2 separate regions of the Homo sapiens genome follow, and region 1 is linked to region 2. Evidence: fine-mapped expression QTL. A gene starts in region 2. The other region holds a variant in brackets. All regions are shown on one strand. Distances are between the middles of the regions. Region 1 holds the start of GLYATL1B (glycine-N-acyltransferase like 1B). Region 2 holds the start of FAM111A-DT (FAM111A divergent transcript).

What was found.
Region 1: its variant is fine-mapped to the expression of FAM111A-DT in fibroblasts (GTEx, PIP 0.91).

The regions. Positions count from the first base shown.
Region 1 is chr11:59,082,463-59,092,031 of GRCh38, forward strand. It overlaps GLYATL1B (glycine-N-acyltransferase like 1B), which reads left to right and starts at 3,845. Exons shown (of 5, transcript NM_001355566.1): 1 at 3,845-3,922; 2 at 4,602-4,709. The coding sequence starts at 3,845. The variant C/CT (reference allele first, on the strand shown) is at 3,669.
Region 2 is chr11:59,138,089-59,147,657 of GRCh38, forward strand. It overlaps FAM111A-DT (FAM111A divergent transcript), which reads right to left and starts at 4,720. Exons shown (of 4, transcript NR_110184.1): 1 at 4,527-4,720; 2 at 1,869-2,079. FAM111A (FAM111 trypsin like peptidase A) reads left to right here and starts at 4,768. Exons shown (of 6, transcript NM_001312909.2): 1 at 4,768-4,858; 2 at 4,995-5,216; 3 at 5,409-5,607; 4 at 7,739-7,768. It also overlaps the pseudogene LOC100422399. RefSeq lists enhancers at 4,536-4,985, 6,354-6,463.

The sequences.
Region 1 (9,569 bases), 56 kb before region 2:
AGAGTTCCAAGGTAAAAGCTTTTGGATCTTCGTGTGTATATACATATAGATGTGTTTATGTGCATGCACACGTATTACATTATATGTTGTGACTAGAAATTGGCTTCTACATAAAAGAACTCTCCTAGATTAAGTAAAAAAGTTTTTTTACATTCACGTTACTTAAGTAAATTTTTAAGAAGCTAGCATAAAAATTATTGTAATACAAAAATAGAAATGTCTTCAGAATTGTCAGCATACATTTTTTTCGGGGTTTTATGTTTGTCTCTGCTAGATATTTTGGGGTATCAGAGTGTGGCACAGAAAATTATAAAACTATAACCAGTAGTTTGAGACCAGCCTGCAAAACGAAGACCACCCCCCCACCATCTCTATAACATAAAAATAAGACAATTAGCCAGGCACATTGATTCATGCCTGTAGTCCCAGCTAATCAGGAGACTGAGGTGGGAGGATGCTTGAGCCTTAAAGCTCAAGGTTGCAGCGACTCATGATCCAGCCACTGCACTCCAGCCTAGGTGACAGACTGAGACCCTGTCAAAAAAAGAAAAAGATAAGAGGCAGAGAATGACCATGGGGAACAGGAGCATTGCAGAGAAACTAAGGGAACAGTTGTAATTGTTAATAGGATGGTCACAGGATGCCTCATCGAGCAAGTGGCTTTAAGGTGAAGACTTAAATAAGGTAATAAGGTTTTCTATAGGTATAATGAGAAAACAGAATGCAAGCAGAAGAAAAAGGACAGCAAAGTGCCTAAAGCAGAGAAGGCAAAGAGATTGAAGTCAGGGACATGACTGGAGGGATGTCAGAGAGGTGACTGGATTCTAAGTCATGGAAAACTTAGAGGGCTGTTATAAGGCTTTTATATATCTTTCTCTGAATGAGATTGGGAGTGACAGCAGGAGTTGCACAACAAATAACAAAATGTGGCTTTTGTTTTAAAAAGAGCATTCTGGTTTTACATAGAGAAAAGACTAAAGACATTCTCCATCCAGAAAAGACTGCCGAGAACTGTGAAGCATCTAAAAGTTTACAGGGGCACAGATGCAGAAATGCTGGCAGATGACACAAGCTTCCAGGTAAAGGCAGGATTTTATATGCCTTCACCAGGCAGAATGAGTTATGTGTTTGTGTCAGTCATCTTTGCTCCACAAGTCCTACAGAGGAAATACAGAAAGACAGATTAATGTCGCAAATGCAATAGATGTGTGTTGCAGCAAAACTGCCTTCTGCTTCAGAAGAAAGCAGTATCTCTAGCTTCCAAGCTGTACTCTTTACAAACATCCTTGAAAAGTTAGGAGCAAAGGCTGTCAATGTCTCTGCTCCTAAGACATGCAGAAATGTGAGAGGCATGAAGAATTTTCTCCCAACCAGAATGAGCAGAATGTCATAATGGATTGGATATAATGTGGGAGGGGAAAAGATACATAAGAGTAATTCCAAGAGTTTTTATTTGAATAGATGAAAAGGTAGAGTTGCCATCAACTTAATTGAGAAAGACTACAGGTGAAGTAGGCTGGGTGGAGAGGGTGGATAAGGAGTTTGATCTGAGACATAATGAGTTTGAGATGGCTATTGGGTGGAATCCAAGAGATATGAAACAGGCCATTAGATACATATGTCTTGAGTTTGGAAAAGAGTTTTAATACTAATATAAATGTATTAGTCATTGGCAAGCAGATTGATTTTAAAGCCATGGGACCAGATGTGATTACCAGGGAGTAAGTGTGGATACAAATGAAGGCCAATGATTGAACTCTAAAGTGATGCAAAATTAAGAAGTTGGGGAGAAAAGAAGGGTCCACAGAGGAGACTGAGAAATAACCAGTGAAGTTAAAGGAAAACGAAGAGAGTGTGTTTTCTTGGAAACCAAGTGAGGAAAGTCTTAAAGAATGATCTATTAAGAACAGAAGCAATAACTGATCACTGGATTTAATAACATAGAGATCACTGATGGCTTTAAAAAATGTTTCAGTAAAATGGTAGCAGCAAAAACCCAGTTAGAGAAGATTAGGAGGAGGATTGGAAATAGCATTTGTAGACAATCCTTTCAATGAATTTTGCTACAAAGTGTTAAAGCAAATTAAATATGGTCTGAGAAGGACTCTGTACTTCATTTGAGTCCTTGTGGGTGAAGAGTAACCTAGCTTAATAGTCAGACAAAATTGAAAACCTAATTTAGGAGTGTGCACCTGTAACAATACTTGAATGTTGGCCAGTCCCAGCAGCCTTACATCACCACTCATAGACTGCTGAATGCTCAAACTGTGTTTAAATAAGGCAAACGCCCAGCTGACAGCAATCTCACTGTTTCTGTAACTCATTTCTGGTTCCTGGATGTCACTTTAACTTTTTTTCCCTATAAATTTGTTTTGACCACAAGACACCCCTGGAGCCTCCATGAATCTGCTGTGATTCTGAAGGCTGCTGGATCGATGAATTGTTCATTGCTCAACTAAACTCCTTTAAATTTAAGTCAGCTGAAGTTTTTATTTTATCAGATTGTGTCAGAAGCAGAATCTGAAGTGGAGCTTCTAGTATCCCCAGGAGCACTGAGTAAACACAGAAGGTACCTGCAGGATCCACTTGTGTCCATTGATCTCTCAGAGCAGCTGAGGATCAAAGGTAAGCTCCCTCTTGCATTTTGGAGCTTCACACATTTGTGTTTTGAGCTCTCTGAGTTTCCTTGAGCAAATTTGTGATCCAAACTGGTTTTGGAGTTGCAACAGAAAATGGACTGGGTCTAGGAATGAATTTGATCTGGGAATTAACTGGCTTGGATCCACTTAGAGGCCACTAACAGTAGAGGCCACTAACAGCTGACTGGGTCATAAAGGAAGTGGTAGTAAGCAGTAATGTCGCAGCAGTCATAAAATTCGGCTTTGGGAAATTCACAGGGATTTTTGTGTTCTACCCATTTGTTTCATTTTTCTTCTCCACCTAGGTAGGGAAATTCATTGGCTAAGTTAATCAAAAGAACCTGAGAGTAAAGCCAGTAGTTTCGGTAAAAATGGAATCCTTAATTTCTGAAAAACTGAGTTCTTTCTGGCTTATACATTAGGACTGGGAGGCAGAGAAGTCTTACGCAAATGGCAAAATCTTACTAAAGATAACTTAGAGTGGAACATTCCAAATGAAAAACAATGCATTGAACTACATTTAAAAATGAGGGCTCTCAGTAAAGTCCCTTTTGGCTAAGAACCGGTTTGGCCCTATGGAATGTCAACTGTTATACTCTTTGTCACATTTGTAAGAATTCCAAGTGTTATATCGAACGAAATTTACAGATATGTTTCAAAATTTTCCATGTTTTTTTCTTATTTTTGTAATGAAACTGGGAAAAATTTCTAAATGGTTATAGATCTGAAATATTTAGCCCTAAGAAACTAAATAAAATCTTTGCCAACTCCTGCTCTGAGGTTTCCAGTCACAACTGTTCTTAGATATTTTCTATTCCAGAAGAAAGAAGACTCCTCAGGCATCTGATGTGCAAAATACAAGGAAAAGTTATGGTGATGGTGGTGGAGTGTTCTGCTACAGGCATGTGGGAAGCTCACAGAACTCTTAATATTCACTTTTATTCATTCCACCAGAGAGGAAATGCATGGGTTTTGGATATGACTCTGTCGTTTATCCCTGTAAGAACTTGAGAAATTTATTTAGTCTCT[C/CT]TAAGCTTTGGCGTATTCAAAATGAAGACGATACTAACAGTACCTACATCATGAGTGTTACTTGAATGGAGATGTGTAAAGTGCATTTTAATTTCATCTGGTCCTTTAACATTTTCCCTCCACTTCTCTTCAGAGTTTTTTTCTTGAAGGGCTTGAGGACTGAAGCATCCCACAAAATGATTCTATTGAATAATTCCGAGCGGCTGCTGGCCCTATTCAAATCTTTAGCAAGGAGCATTCCTGAGTCCCTGAAGGTGAAGGAACAGTGGGAGGTTGGGGTATGGGAGTAGGGGTGTTGAGGATGAGAAACTAACAGGCTCATGAATCTCGTCCTTCCTGACTTTGTGCAGAGGGTTGGAGCTGGGAAACAGGATGGGGTTGGGGACAAAGGAGGCATGTTAAGAGCTGCTGCTTCTCCTCGGCAACAGGCAACTAGGCCGACTCTGCAGATTTTATCACTCATTTGGAGAGGTGGTGAAGAATGGTGGCTACGAACATCGGTTTGGGGCCAGATTCAATAAATATGCATTGCAAGGCTGCCATTTTTTAGTCAGATATCATTGTGCCTGTGCCTTTAGCTTTCTTTACGTTTGGTCTTTTCATTAATAAAATGGGAATAATATTAGTACCTACCTCTTAAAGTTGTTGTGGACACTGAATGAATCCATACAATATAAGTGCTAAGTGCATTAACAAGTGCCCAGCTACTGCACAGTAGCTCTGTGGTATCACAAGAACACCTCCCTGTGAGTTCTGCCTGTTTGCTGGTGACTTCATGTCCATCAGTATGGTCCTGGAGATGCTGTTCATCTCATCATCACTGACTTGGTCCCAGTACTGTCTCTTGATCTCCATTTTTCTCTTCCTCTTCACATACAGACCCCCATCTCTGGGGATCTCAGCCTCTCCTATTCCCTTTCATCCCTCCTTCAGGTGTATGGCTCTCTGTTTCACATCAATCACGGGAACCCCTTCAACATGGAAGTGTTGGTGGACTCCTGGCCCGAGTATCAGATGGTTATTATCCGACCTCAAAAACAGGTAGGCACACAGACAGGGACTGGTGGAGCCAGGCAGGTCCAAAGGGCCTGAGGAACTGTCCAATTCAGACACCATGGCTGCTTTTATAGGGTGAAAGGAAATGTGAGTATTTTAAAACACTCCTTCAGTACTGGGCAGCTTGCGTGAGTGCCACATGTTAACACTCTTCCTGTAAAGCATAAGACTCATTAGGGAAAGGGGGTCAAGGGGGAAGGGGAGGAAAAGGACAAAGCTGACACTCACAGATTAAGGGCCCTTTGAGGTGGCAGGGGTCACCTGCAGGGGCTGAATGGAGGCCAATTTACAGGGAAAGTTGGCTGTCTGAGATATTGGAACAGTGACTTAGAACCAAAAACCAAGGCAGTAGTCTACCAGTAAAATTACATCTCATGGCCAGGCATGATGTCTTTTATCTGTAATCCCAGCACTTTGGGAGGCCAAGGCAGGAGGATCGCTTGAGGCCAGGAGTTTGGGACCTGCCTGTGCAACATAATGAGACCTCATCTCTACAAAAAAATAAACAAAATTAGCAGGGCATGGTGATGCGTGCCTATACTCCTAGATACTCAGGAGATGGAGGTGGGAGGATGGCTTGAGCCCCAGAAGGTTGAGGCTGCAGTGAGCCAAGATCACACCACTCTACTCTAGCCTGGCCAACAGAGTGAGACCCTGTCATGAAAACAATAAAAGTTGCTTCTCAGGAACCAGGGAAGGGACACACAATTACTTTGTGTCAACTGTGTGGAAGCACCTCACTCGTTAGTGACTGTCATCATCAGAACAATTTTACAAAGTGAGCTTTAATATCTTTAATTTAGAGATGAGGAAACAACACTGAGAAATATTCAGTCAGGTAGCTGCTGGATACCATCTGTTAAAGCATTCCCCAATCTGAATTCAAGTTCAACGGACTCTGCCACTTTTACTAGCTATATAACCATAGGCCCTTCTGTGAGTTTTATCATCTGTTAAAATGGGAAAAATAGGAGGACATTCTTCAGAGGATTACACAAGGTTTAAATGAGATACCACATGTCAAACACTTAGTATATAGCACATAATTCTAAATAGTATTTACCATAATTAGCCATTATTGGCCGAGGACACACAAGGAATACACGATTAAGCTGAAATAGTAATACAAACCTAGGTCTATTTTTTGGCCCTAAAGACTTCCCCTTTTTGTGTCTGTTTCATGCACATCTGATTAGTGAACTGAAGCCTCATGGCCAGCCCAGCTTCAGGTGGGTATAGACACTGAGCCCCCACATAATAATAAGCTGAGCCTAATACCTTCCCCAGGGATGTTCTTTTGATCTCCTGGTTTCCTGACAATTTCGGATCGATGATTAATGGTTAGTTTACTTGATCCATGGTCCAATTTCTTCAAAGTGTCATACGCTAAATAACTGTATGAACCAAATAGTTCTTTTTACTTCAGTAACTTTGTAGTCACTATGTGTATTTTAACAATGTAACTGTACCATCAAGCTGTAACTTCATATATGCATTGCTTTGAACAAGGCTAGTTTTTATATAGTGAGTCAGCAAACAAAAATATTAAAATATAAAAGTTCCATGCCACACATATATGACCAAAAAAATGGAAAGAATGAAATATGCTGCAATTTACTTGGAAATACATTCACTTAGTCTGATTCCATAGTATACCATGTTTCTTTCAGTATTGAAAATCAATGCAATTTTGAAGAAGACCTTTTTAAGGTGAGATGCAGGAGAATTTCTCTAGAAAAATATTAATTTTTCTTTGTTGGTTCCTAATCAGAAAGATAATATATGCTGATTATAGAAGTGGAAAAATTCAACATGATTTTAAGAAGTTAATAACCTCTCACCTCTTTGCCCTCCTCTCCTCCATTCCTACCCTTTGGGGTAATCGGTGTCCTTGGCCATATTAACACACAAACGGATATTCAGTTATGATCTCTTCTGTAATCGCTTTTTAATTTGCCTTTGACATATGGACATTGCTTTGAGTGAATCAATACAGCACTAACATATTTGTTTTAATAACTGTGGCGTTCCATAGAGTCAATGCAATGCTATTTAGTCAGTCATTCTCCTCCTGTTGGGTTCAAATTGTTCATACTTCTTTGCCATTACAAACAATGCTTCAATAAACATCCTTGTATACATGTCTTTACATCCTGGAAACTTTTCTCAATGCAATTGGTTTCCAAAAGGGATAAGTCCAAGTCAGAGCTTATCTTATCCTAAGTAGGCACTGCCAGACTACCCTCCCAAAGGATTCCACAGTATTATTTCCATTAGCAATCTGTGGAAGAATTGTTTCCCACATTCTCATCAGCAGTGAATGTTATCCTTCTTCTACTTTATGCCAAACTGGTGGGTGAAAAGTGGCATCTTATTGTAGATTTAATTTGCATTTCCCTGACTAGTGATATTCAACATATATTTTCATATGATTATCAGTCATTTTGGGTTTACTTCTGAACTGTTTATATTGTTTGACCATTTTTACACTGGGATTTTGTGTCATTCTTAAAATTCTCTATGTGTTTTGGATATGAGGGATACTAACACAAGGTGTATGCTACAAATTTGTTGCCCAATTTAGAATTATTTTCTAATTTGATAGATTTTCACATGAAGCAATTTTTAATTTTCATGTAATCAAATATATTATCTTTTTCACTATGATTCCTGAGGCTTTGGGAGTTTTTTTGTTAATAATTAGGAAGATTTTTCCTAAACCAAGATCGTACAAGTTGTTTTTTTCATTTTGTCTTACAGTGAGTTAATTTTTACTTTTGACATTTCAAACTTCATTCTATTTGGAATATATTTTTGAATAGCATGAATTAACATTCTTTTATATTTATCCCCCGAATGGCTGGCTAATTACGTTAGTGCTATTTATTAAGTAAGTCATTCTGCTACTGAAACATAAATGTCTATTTTGTCATATAACTTTTATATATTTTTGTAGCTATTTCTGTATTTGTTTCTAATCTTTTCTCATGCTATTTCATTGTTTTGTGGCAAATTTTAATATCTAATAAAGCAAATCACCCTTCACTAATCTTTTTCTTGCTTTCCTATTTCTTATAAACTTCAGAGCTATATGAACAAAAACTAATTTTTCAGTTCCCCAATTTCCCCAACTAAGTATTGCAATTGTGATTTGTATTGGAGGAGCTTTTTTAGACAATTGTGGAAGCATTAATATTTTTGTGATACTAAATATTTTTATCAAGAAATATGGTCTTTCTCTCACTTTTTTCAGTTTCTGTTCTATGCCATCTGGTAAAATATTAGTGTTTTCCTGAGGTAAACTACGTGATTTTTCCATTAAGTTTACCCTTAGGTATTTTATATTATTTTTTAAGATTATTAAATTATTTTTCCTTTTCTATTTCTGAGCATTATTATTTTGTTATTGCTTTCTATTTATATTCTTCATTTCCAAATATGTCACACTATGCTTTAAAATCTTCTTTGTTTGCCTGGGGTGTTATTTGTTTTTGTTTTCTGTCGAAGTCTCTTATATTTTCTAAATGTGTAATACTGTAATCTATAAACAAAGTAATTTGCTGCTTCTTTGCCAATATTTGTATGGGTTTTTACTTTCTTGCCTTATTGTATAATGTACAACCTAAGAAAACAATACCAAGTAGCCATAATAAAAGTTCTATCCTTGTCTCATTCCTGATTTTAATGAAATAGCTATAAAAACTTACCTTTGGAATTACATTTAATTCTGTCTTTACAGGCTTAGAGCACTTTCCTGTTTTCCCATTTTCATAGAAATTATATTTAGAATGAACGGTAGATTTTATGTTATTTCATTTTTGTCTTTTTATGGCAATTTATATACTCATGTAATTTTTTCCTCCTTTAATTTATTACCCTAAAAGATCTTCTGATCAAACTCATTCTGGCCTTTCTAAAACAAACTGTTCATGTTCACATTCTTTTCATATGCTACTGAATATTTTATTCAGAATTTTTGCATCTGTATTCATAAGCCAATATGGTCAGTAACTCTCTTTTTGTTATTTCTTTACCAGATTTGGCATTAGGATATTTTCATCTGTTACCAAAGTCTACTATTAAAATTATGTGTTTGGTTTTGCCTTATGTAGAATTGAAATGTAAAATAATCTAATTTTGGCTACTTTTTAGTTTGTAATTTCAACTTTCCTTTTAGATAAAGGGGGTACATGTGCATATTTGTTACACGCAAATATTGCATGATGCTGAGTCTTGGAGTATGGACAGATCCCATCACCCTGGTAGTGAGCATAGTACCCGATAGGTAGTTTTCTAACCCAGCCCCTTTCCCTCCACCCTCTAGAGTCCATAGTGTCTATTGTTCTCACATTTATGTCCATGTATGTTCAATGCTTAGCTCCCAGTTATGAGTGAAAACGTGATATTTGATTTTCTGTTACAGCATTAATTTGCTTAGGATTATTACACTGTGGAAAGTAGTCTGGAAATTTCTTAGAGAACTTAAAAGAGAGTTGCCATTCGACCCAGCAATGCCATTACTAGGTAAATACCCAAAAGAAAATGAATCGTTCTACCAAAATGACACATGCACTAGGATGTTCATTGCTGCACTGTTCACAATAGCAAAGACATGGAATCATCACAGATCCCCATCAAAGGTGCATTGGATAAAAAAACTTGGTACATGTATTCCTATGGAATACTACACAGCAATAGAAAAGAATAAAATATTGTCCTTTGTAGCAACACGGATGGAGCTGGAAGCCATAATTCTTGTCCACTTTTCAAATGGTAGATATTTCATTTCATTTCCGATATTTCTATTAGTTCATTGAAGTTTTCTATTTTTTGAAAGTCAATTTT
Region 2 (9,569 bases):
GGGGGAAGATCTGAGAACAATTTTCCACACTCGGCCACTGGTTCTTCCAATTCTCCAAGTACTTCAAACTAGATTAAACAGCAAACGTGTATTTAATATAGAATGTGTGTGCATTTTAATATATTGGATAGGCTATGAGACGTGACCTGGAAAAGCACTAGGCTTAGATACAATATTGCATTAAACTGCTCTGGGTCCATGAATGTGAGAATCATATTCATTCACCTCTGTTCCCCAATGTCCAGTACAATACCTGGCACAAAGTAGGAATTAACACATCTCTTAAATGAATGAAACCATGTGGAAATGATATTATTTGTGTACCTCTTCTGTCTTCCCTATTTGAGGGCAGGGGTCAACATTTTACCCTTCATAGAATGTGGCACCGGATCTTGTAAATTGCCACCCGAAATTTATACCTTGAATAGATTATTGGATTAATGAAAAAGCATTATACTAGGAAGAAGTAAGCCACTGTGCCTTTTTGCAGTTAGATCTGAGAGGCAGCCATCATTCAATAGAATAAGTTTGGCTTCTAGTTTCAGATGGGAATACAAATCCTCATAAGGATGTTTCTGCACAATTATTTGCTAAAGCTTTTTGTGAAATGGCGAAGATAATCTCACCTTCCCCACAGGGTTATTGAGAGTATTAAATGAAACAGACACATGTAAATGCCAAGCTCAGAGAGGAACTCAAAGCAGTACAGCAGCAGAGGTCATTTCCCTCTACACACTCCCTGCTGCTTCCGTGGGCAGACATAAGTGTTAGCCAGGCCAATGAAAGCAGTTAAGCAGCCAAGTTGGACTTTGCCAAGGGATCCCACACCACCACCACCCCTTTTAAAGGTTACTACAAAAGTAATCTTAAGAAAGTTTTATATATAATAACTGTGATATTTTTAACTTGATTGCACATCTTATCAAACAGGTATTGATTTTCAGTGCTTTCAATGATTAAGAATAAGGGCAACAAAAAAGAAAATCTGTGTATAATATGATGAACCTGGAATTTTTGGTTTCATACGTGTGTGTATATATATGTATATTTATGTATATATATATATATACACACACAGAGCAGTAATGGCCTTTAAAATAAATTCAAATAATGATAGAAAACAAAACATCTTCATGCATGGTGTAATCTTTTTCCTACAAGAAGGCCTTGTTTTAAAAATGTGCATAAGGTTATGCTTTTGCATATTTTATATAATTTCTTAAAGGTATGTTATCAAATTAATGTTTTCCAGCCAGGGTATCATATTTAAGGGTGATAGTAAATACTCCAAACACACCAGCTGTCACAAAATAATTATGCCTATGTCTATTATTGTTATCTGTTTCTCATAAAATTAATCATAAATGATATGAATTATTGATTAAAATTAGTGTTTATAGACTATAAACCTATGAAAAGCCACAAGAGCAGTATTTTTACATATTTTTCAAGAATTCAGATAACAGTGTAACCTTTGATTATAATAACAGAATTCATTTCTGTAGCAGAATTACAAATACAGCAATTATAAATATAAATGATACTCCGTTAAGTCCATCCTGCTTTTAACTGTGCAACTATTTACAGCCAGAGGCAGGAATAAAAAAGGGTGTATACGTGTGGAAGAAAATTCACTCCATGCTGTTTTTGACCTTGCGTGTAAAAAATAATTCATTACTATCAAAAGAGGCATTTTCCCAAATAAAAACAAACAAGGAAACAAAAACACAGGAAAAAAAAAAAAACTACTTACTGACCGTGACTTAAGTGTGGAGGAAAAAACCCTTTGCAGCTAATGTTGGCAAAAGTGTGTCCCCCGTAGATTTAGTCTAAGAATTAAGAAACTGGCCGGGCGCGGTGGTTCATACCTGTAATCCTAGCACTTTGGGAGGCCAAGGTAGGCGGGCTGCCTGAGTTCAGGAGTTTGAGACCAGCCTGGGGAACATGGCGAAATCCTGTAGTCCCAGCTACTCAAGTGGCTGAGGCATGAGAATCGCTTGAACCTGGGAGATGGAGGTTTCAGTAAGCCAAGATCATGCCACTTCACTCCAGCCTGGGTGACACAGTGAGACTCTGTCTCTAAAAAAAAAGAAAAAAGAAAAAAGAAAAAAATAGCCTGTTTAATGAAGCATTGACAAGGAACCCAGGCTATGATTATAGAATAGGAGCTTCATAGTAATTGTAAGAACTCTGGTTCTTAGAAGACAAAAGTTAAATTTAATAAATAAGTTTAATGGCCAAAATATCTTTTTAAAACTTGTTTGTAGTCTTTAGAATGTGAATTTTATTTGGTTTAGATCTTACTAAGCTATATTTTGTAACTGAAATTAATACTTCATTTTTGCCTGAAATTAGTAGAAAAAACAATAGCTAAAGTTTGCTACAGATAAATAAATGTCAATATTAGACTTTTTTTCTTTTGAAAAGGTAGGGAACTTTAATTAGTAATATAAGTTAAGAAAATGACAAAGATGTCAGATAATGAAGAAAAAATGTGACAGTAATCTTTCATCCAAAAAAAGGTTATGTTCCTATTGTCTAAAGCCAAAATATATTTCATTGCAAATATATATAAAGTTTAAGAATTGTTATTTTAGGCCCTTTCCGCAATAAGCCAACACATAACTTATCATGCCATAAATGTTTTTAAAAGAAATATGATTAAAATTATACAAAACGACATAAAAATTTCAGAAAGAATATTGATAAATATCTTGGTACATAGTAGATTTAGTTGCACAGATATTAGGTGGTACAAGTTTTATATCTTCTATAATAATAACTTTTTATTATCTCCTTGTGCACTAATATTTCAATATGTCAAAGTCATTTGAATAACCTTTCTAGTAAATCTCAACTTCGTAGATTGAAAACTTTTTTAAAAGCTTTATTTAAGTTTAGTGGTACATGTGCAGGTCTGCTATATAGATAAACTCATGTCATGGGGGTTTGATGTACAGATTATTTCACCACCAAGGTATTAAGCCTAGTACCCATTAGTTGTTTTTCCCGATCCTCTCCCTTCTTCCATCCACCACCCTCCGATAGGCCCCAGCGTCTGTTGTTCCCCTCTGCGTGTCCATGTGTTCTCATCATTTAGCTCCCACGTATAAGTGATAATATGCAGTATTTGATTTCTGTTCCTGCATTAGTTTGCCAAGAATAATGGCCTCTAGCTCCATCCATGTCCCTGTACAGGACATGATCTCATTATTTTTTATGGCTGTGTAGTATTCAATGGTATACTGAGTTTTCTTTATCCAGCCTACCACTGATAGGCATTTAGGTTGATTCTTTGCTATTGTGAACAGCGCTGCAAGGAACATACGTGTTCGTGTGTCTTTATGAAAGAATGATTTATATTCCTTTGGGTACATACCCAGTCATGGGATTGCTGGGTTGAATGGTAGTTCTGTTTTTAAGTCTTTGAGGAATTGCCACACTGTTTTCCACAATGGTTGAACTAATTTACACTCCCACCTAGTATATAATCCTTCCTTTTGGAAACAAATTTTATCAGTATATTCAATTCTGAACACCCATGTTTTAGAAAATGTTAAGCCTATTGTCCTTTAATCACTATTTGCTTACACATTAAAATGTAAAACAGGCAAAAGAGAAAGAAGGAAGAAAGGAGGGAGGGAGGGAAGGAGAAAAGTGAGAAAGAAAGAAAGATAAAAGAAAAAAGAAAGAAGAAAGAAAGAAAGAGAAGAAATAAAGAGAAAAAAGAAAGGAAGAAAGGAAGGAAGGAATGAAGAAGAAAAGAAAAAAGAGAAAGAAAGAAGGAAAGAAAAAGAAAAAAAGAAAGAGAAAGAAAGAAAGAAAGAGAAAGAAAGAAAGAGAGAGAGAGAGAGAAAGAGAGAGAAAAGAAAATTTTCTCCAGATTAGAATTATTGGCTGCTATTGTTTGGATGCTGGGTACTAGCTGTGATTACCCTTTGTGAATGTAGGAATGCACAGATTCCAAAAGTGAGTCTCATAGAAAAAGTCAGCATTCAAATATGTTTTAAGGTTACTCTATCCAAACCCCAAAGAACCCACAGAAGATGAAGCAGTAATTTTAGCTTCTCTTGGTGTATTGTACATGCATTTAAGGCCAGTTCCTTCCTTCAAATTCCCATGTGTTTTGTAGTTACCAACACACCTTTCAACCCTATCTGTTTATATACATCATATAGTCCTCTGTCAATTGCATAAAAGTTGTCCCCTTTGTGACTGTAATCGCCTTTTCCAATACACATCTACTCAGAATGCAGGTCCTTAAACAGCAGGCTGCCTTGAAAACCCTCTCCAATCTTCTTCGATCATCAGCTTTGAGATGCATATTCCTAGAGCCCATATCATCTTCTTCATCACTATCATAAACGTCTCCACATATTGATGAACGTTTGGAGAATCGATTTATGACAAGGGAGTTTACTCTTCCTGCATCCGCGGCTTCTTCGTGATTTTGTCCTAGTCACCGGGCCTATCCCACCTGCTGGGGATGCCGCCCCCTCGGAAGTGCCTGAAATCTCCCCACTTACCCAACTAGCCTCAGCGCCTCCTGTGTGCTGCAGCAGATGGCGCGCTGCAGACCCCAGCCTGGTGCCTCCGCGACTCCTCCCCAACCATGATTTACAGGCGGGGACAGCCACATTCCTGCGCCCCAACTTCCACCTCCGCTTCCTGCGCGCGCGAGACTCAAGCTGCCACAGTGGCTCTGCCGCCAGCGTCCCAGCTCCTCCCACACCCGAGTTTTTATTTCCTGCTCCCTCTCCAGCCCGGCCCAGGCCAGCCTACCGGCGACTAGGATGCTTTCGCTTTCGCTCTCGCTTTCCAATACTCGGGACTGGGGAAACCGGGAGAATAGAAGCAGGCAAGGACCGCCGTGGGCACGGGGTCAGTGAGACAGGGTCCTGCTCGCGGCGTCAAGGAGGAGCGCTGTGGGTGGGTAGGGTAGGCGCGCCCCCTCGGCCTTGCCTTTCCAACCACTCTTTTTTGCACGCCAACAGGTGTCCCCAGCGCAGCCAATCGGCTTCCGAAGTAGGTGAGTTGCTGCCTGAAGAGAAAAGACAAACTCCAGTATCTTTCATTCCATTGGCCAGACGCGCCATTCCCCAAGTGAGTTCTGTTCTCCAACCAAAGTGCTGGATTCCAAGGGACTGGAAGGGAAAGTCCCTAAAAATCACGAGTTCAGGCGTCTGAGACTTGGTGGGAACGGACCTTCCTCTTAGGTGAGTTACTCTTTGGTTCTGGGGCTGACCTGGAGTTTTGCCAGGATTCATTGGCCGCAGCAGGATGCTGGTGGGGACAGGGTAAATAAAATCTGCACTCCTGCGGGCTTTTATTGTTGAAAGGGGCACTGACGCTCTCCCTGGAAACTTAAAAAGAACAGCCAAGTGAACGGATGTGTCTTTCTTTTGCAGTGCCCAAGCCTGTTCTAATTTTTAAAAACTGATGTCTATTAAGACCCAATGTTAACTTTATGAAAATGGTTCCTAAGGAGATTCACATCTCTGTGTCCGAATTCTGTGTGCAGCAAACATCATCTCAAGTGCGTTTTCCCAACTACGCTTCTTTCCAGGATAAAATACTCTAAGTGACAAATGTTGAGTACATTATCAGGTATGTTCACTATTGTGAGAACTGAAGCCATCTACACTCACATAGCTTGCCAACTACATTAACCTGACTTCTTATTCCATTATTTTCATCAACATACATTTACTATTTCAAGAAACTTTTGCCAGGGACCGGAAAGTTGCAAATATCTTTATTGCTTAATCCAGTATCTTCTTCAAAGATCCAACCACTCTTCAATGGAAAACATCAAAGAACAGTTTACATTCTAAGACTTTGAACCTTTACCTCAAAATCCTAGCCTTGTTTTATCTACCAATCCTAAACTTTTACCCGTAGCTGACTCAATTCTAACCAATTCCCCTCATTAAATATTAGACTTACAATGGGACTTCAAAATCTCAATACATATAGCCCAAACTTGCTCTTCCCTCTCTGAGACACCACTTAAATTCTGTCAAGTTATTGTTCTCCATTACCTAAGTGAGCAAGAAACTTAGCTTTGTCTTATCAACAGGTTGCTTTGATATTACTGGGAGCCAACATTTGACATTCTTGGAGGCTCCAGCAAGACCTAATCAACCTCCCAACCCTCAACTCAGAATCAGTGTGTGCCCTGAAGTCCCTTCAACCTTCTTGAGGCTCTCCCTGATCTCAAAGGTGGAGAAAGTAGATCTTGCATCAGGTTGAACTCCAGTTTCTTTTTGCTCAGTTTTTCAAGCGCTGAGTTTATTTTGTCCCTAGGCATAAAGAAATCTTTCTAGGAACCCCTTTGGTTATGGGACCAGATTTTTAAAAGCTTTTTAGGCTTGGTGAAAAATCTGCCTTATCACTAGCAACACTACGACTTGTCTCTGTTCTTGTTTTTTGTTGTACTCGTGTAAAAGAAAAGTTCAAGGGAAGAGAACAGGCTCAAGTCTACTTCTCACGCTGGCTCTGGGGATTAGGAAATTCAGAAAGTTTTGTTTCAGACTGGCAGTGCTGTCTGATATAAACACAGCGTCAAGTACTGCACGCTGTAGCTACCTGAGGTTTAGGCCGGAAGAGGCACGGCTGATTTAAAAGTGAAAGAAAGTAACCAATTGGTTCGCAGACAACCTTTTCCCAAAAGGCGGGCGATTCAAACCCCTAGCCCCACCTGCTCCGTTTCCCGCCCAGCTGGAGCTCTGGAGCCTTTGCTTCCTCAAATACGAGCGGGAACTGCGTTGAGCGCTGGATTCCAGGCCGAGTGCTGGCGAGGCGCGCAGTGAGTGAGCACACAGGGCGCTGGGGTGCTCCGCGGGGCGCGGTCACGGGCGCGGCCGCGGCGGGCTCGAGTCCCGGCTGGGAGGAGAAGGAGCTGGGTGTCAGGAAGCCGGGGACTGACAGCGCCACCCATCTGGGGAGCCGGGAGGACACAGGTTTTATTTTGGTAGTGCTGCAAGTCCCCTTGTGTGCTGGGGGGAGCGGGGCGGCGTGGTAGGATTGGAAGAGGCTTAGAGTTGGCCTCGACCCCTGCCCTTGCCCCTGGAAAGGCAGAAAGTGGGGGTTGGGGTGCGGAGAAGCAGGAAGAGAGGGAGAGTGAAGGAGGGGAGGAAAGGGAGAGAGGAAGAGGGAGAGTGAAGGAGGGGAGGAAAGGGAGAGAGGCAGAGAGGGGGAAGGAGAGAGGGAAGGAAGGAGAGATTGAGAGACAGAGAAATTCCTAAGGGGAGCTGTCAGGTGGGCTGGACATGGGCCCCAGGCTGCACTGCTTTATCCCTTTGCTGTAGGAAGTCAAGCAAGTTCTTTAGGTAAGTAGAACCTTGATGTCAAGTATAAAACAGGGGTTGGTATAGGATAGCTAAGAGCACTTTATATTTTGATATAATCTGATTTATCCTGGATACTGAAAACAATGTAGGGAGACGGAGGATATTGGAGTGTTTTCTTAACCTCTTGCCCCTTTCCACTGTGATTGCTCAAGTACATGCAAAATTAATGTTTCTTTCTGCCCATTTTATTTTCCTTTTTTTGTCTGTGTCTATTAATCATTCCTAAAGCACCCGGATCCTCTCTCAAACTTCGTAAGATGAGACATCATGAACAGACACAGTGAATCCCTAGATTTTCTTAATAGTTGGGCAACAAGTTCTTGCATTTAGGGATGTTGCAACATAGCCCAGTTCCGCAATTGTACATTTTCTATTTTTTTTCCTAGGTTCTCTGCTGTTTAAAAAGTATCCCTGTGGTGAGTGTATTGATATTGATAACATTTACATGACCTTTTTATTGATTATTTACTGGGGGACCTATTACATACAGGCAGTGTTTTAAAGGCTTTGCATATGCTCTCTCTCTCTCTCTATATATATATATATTTACACACACTGTATATATAGATAGATTGCATATATAATATATATAATATGTGTGTGTATGTGTGTATATATATATTGTGTGTGTGTGTGTGACAGAGAGAGAGAGAGAGAGATGAAGTCTCGCTCTGTTGCTCAGGCCTCAGGCTGGAGGGCAGTGGTGTGATCTCGGATCACTGCAACCTCTGCCTCCCAGGTACAAGCCACTCTCCTGCCTCAGTCTCCCAAGTAGCTGGGATTACAGGCACCCACCACCATGCCCAGCTAATTTTTAATTCTTAGTAGAGACAGGTTTTCACCAGGTTGGCCAAGCTGGCCTCGAACTCCTGACTTCAAGTGATCCATCAGCGTTGGCCTCCCAAAGTGCTGAGATTACAGGCATGAGCTACCGCACCCAGACCACAATATATTTCTTAATCTTTATAACAAGGTTGATTCCCACCTTAAGGTGAGGAAAATGAAGGAAGAATAGTTAATTAATATGCCCAAGGTCATGCAGCTAGTAAGTGGCTACCTGATATTTGAACTCAGACAGTTTTATAAGTTCTAACATTATTTTAGCACTTCCATATTCATTATCTCATTTAGAATCATTGCTTCTTTTTACAAACAAGAAATTGAGGCTCAGAAAGGCTAAATGAATTTCCCTAGTCAATGACTGACAGTAAACTAGAAAGCCAGGACTCTTGTTCCATAGTGGAATGGTTACGAGAGTAAACATAGCCTTTAGATAACTTCCATTTGACAAGAAATACAGGGGCTAGAACATAAGTTAAACAATGACATGAGGAAACAACCCAGGAGGTGAACATTCTATAGAGACAATTTCTCTGTTCTCTTCAACAAATCAGTGCTTTTTCTAGAATAAAAGAGCCTTATAAGACATATAAAGGAAACTGTGTACCTCAGTTGGATCTTGGTATGAATAAATCAGTATTGTGATTATAAAAGAAAAATTATGTAATTTTTAGAGATGGGAAGTGACCATTAGCGTTTAAATGTCATGATGTTTCTAGCTGTAACATAAATCATCTAGTAAAATAAAAGGATGGTGTAAGGGTAGCCAAACCCGGGTTTGGCAACTCACACCTCAAAGCCAAACATGAGAGATGAGAGTTGGTGGGAGGAAAAGCAGGTTCATTCAGAGAGCCAGCAAACTGAGAAGATGGCAGACTAGCAACCCAAAGTAGCCTCTTAAGTGAGTACAAGTTTCAGGCTCTTTATGTTAAGGGCATGGGGAAGAGAAGGGATTTACGATCAAGAGGTGACCATTGACTGGAGACATCTGAGCACCATCAAGGATCCAAGAAGGTTGGGAATGTCTTTGTCCTGATGTTCCAGTGAGCCCAAGCATTGATTTGCTGAAGAGAACAGATAAGTTGTCTCTATAGAATGTTAATTTCCTGGGCTGCTTCTACATGTTGTTGTTTAGCTTATGTTCTAGCCCCTGTATTTCTTGTCAAATGGAAGTTATCTAAAGATTATATTTATATTTGTTCTCCAGGTCACAACCCTCCTGTAAATTTTTAACAATCCATAGTTGTTTACATACTTTCCCTTTAATCCCAGAGCTAGTTTTTAAAACTACATTTTTTTTGCATATTATCTCACTGCTCTAAAATTAACCTCCCCTCCATGCATGAATGGATAAAGACCCCGTGAACAAAAATAGAG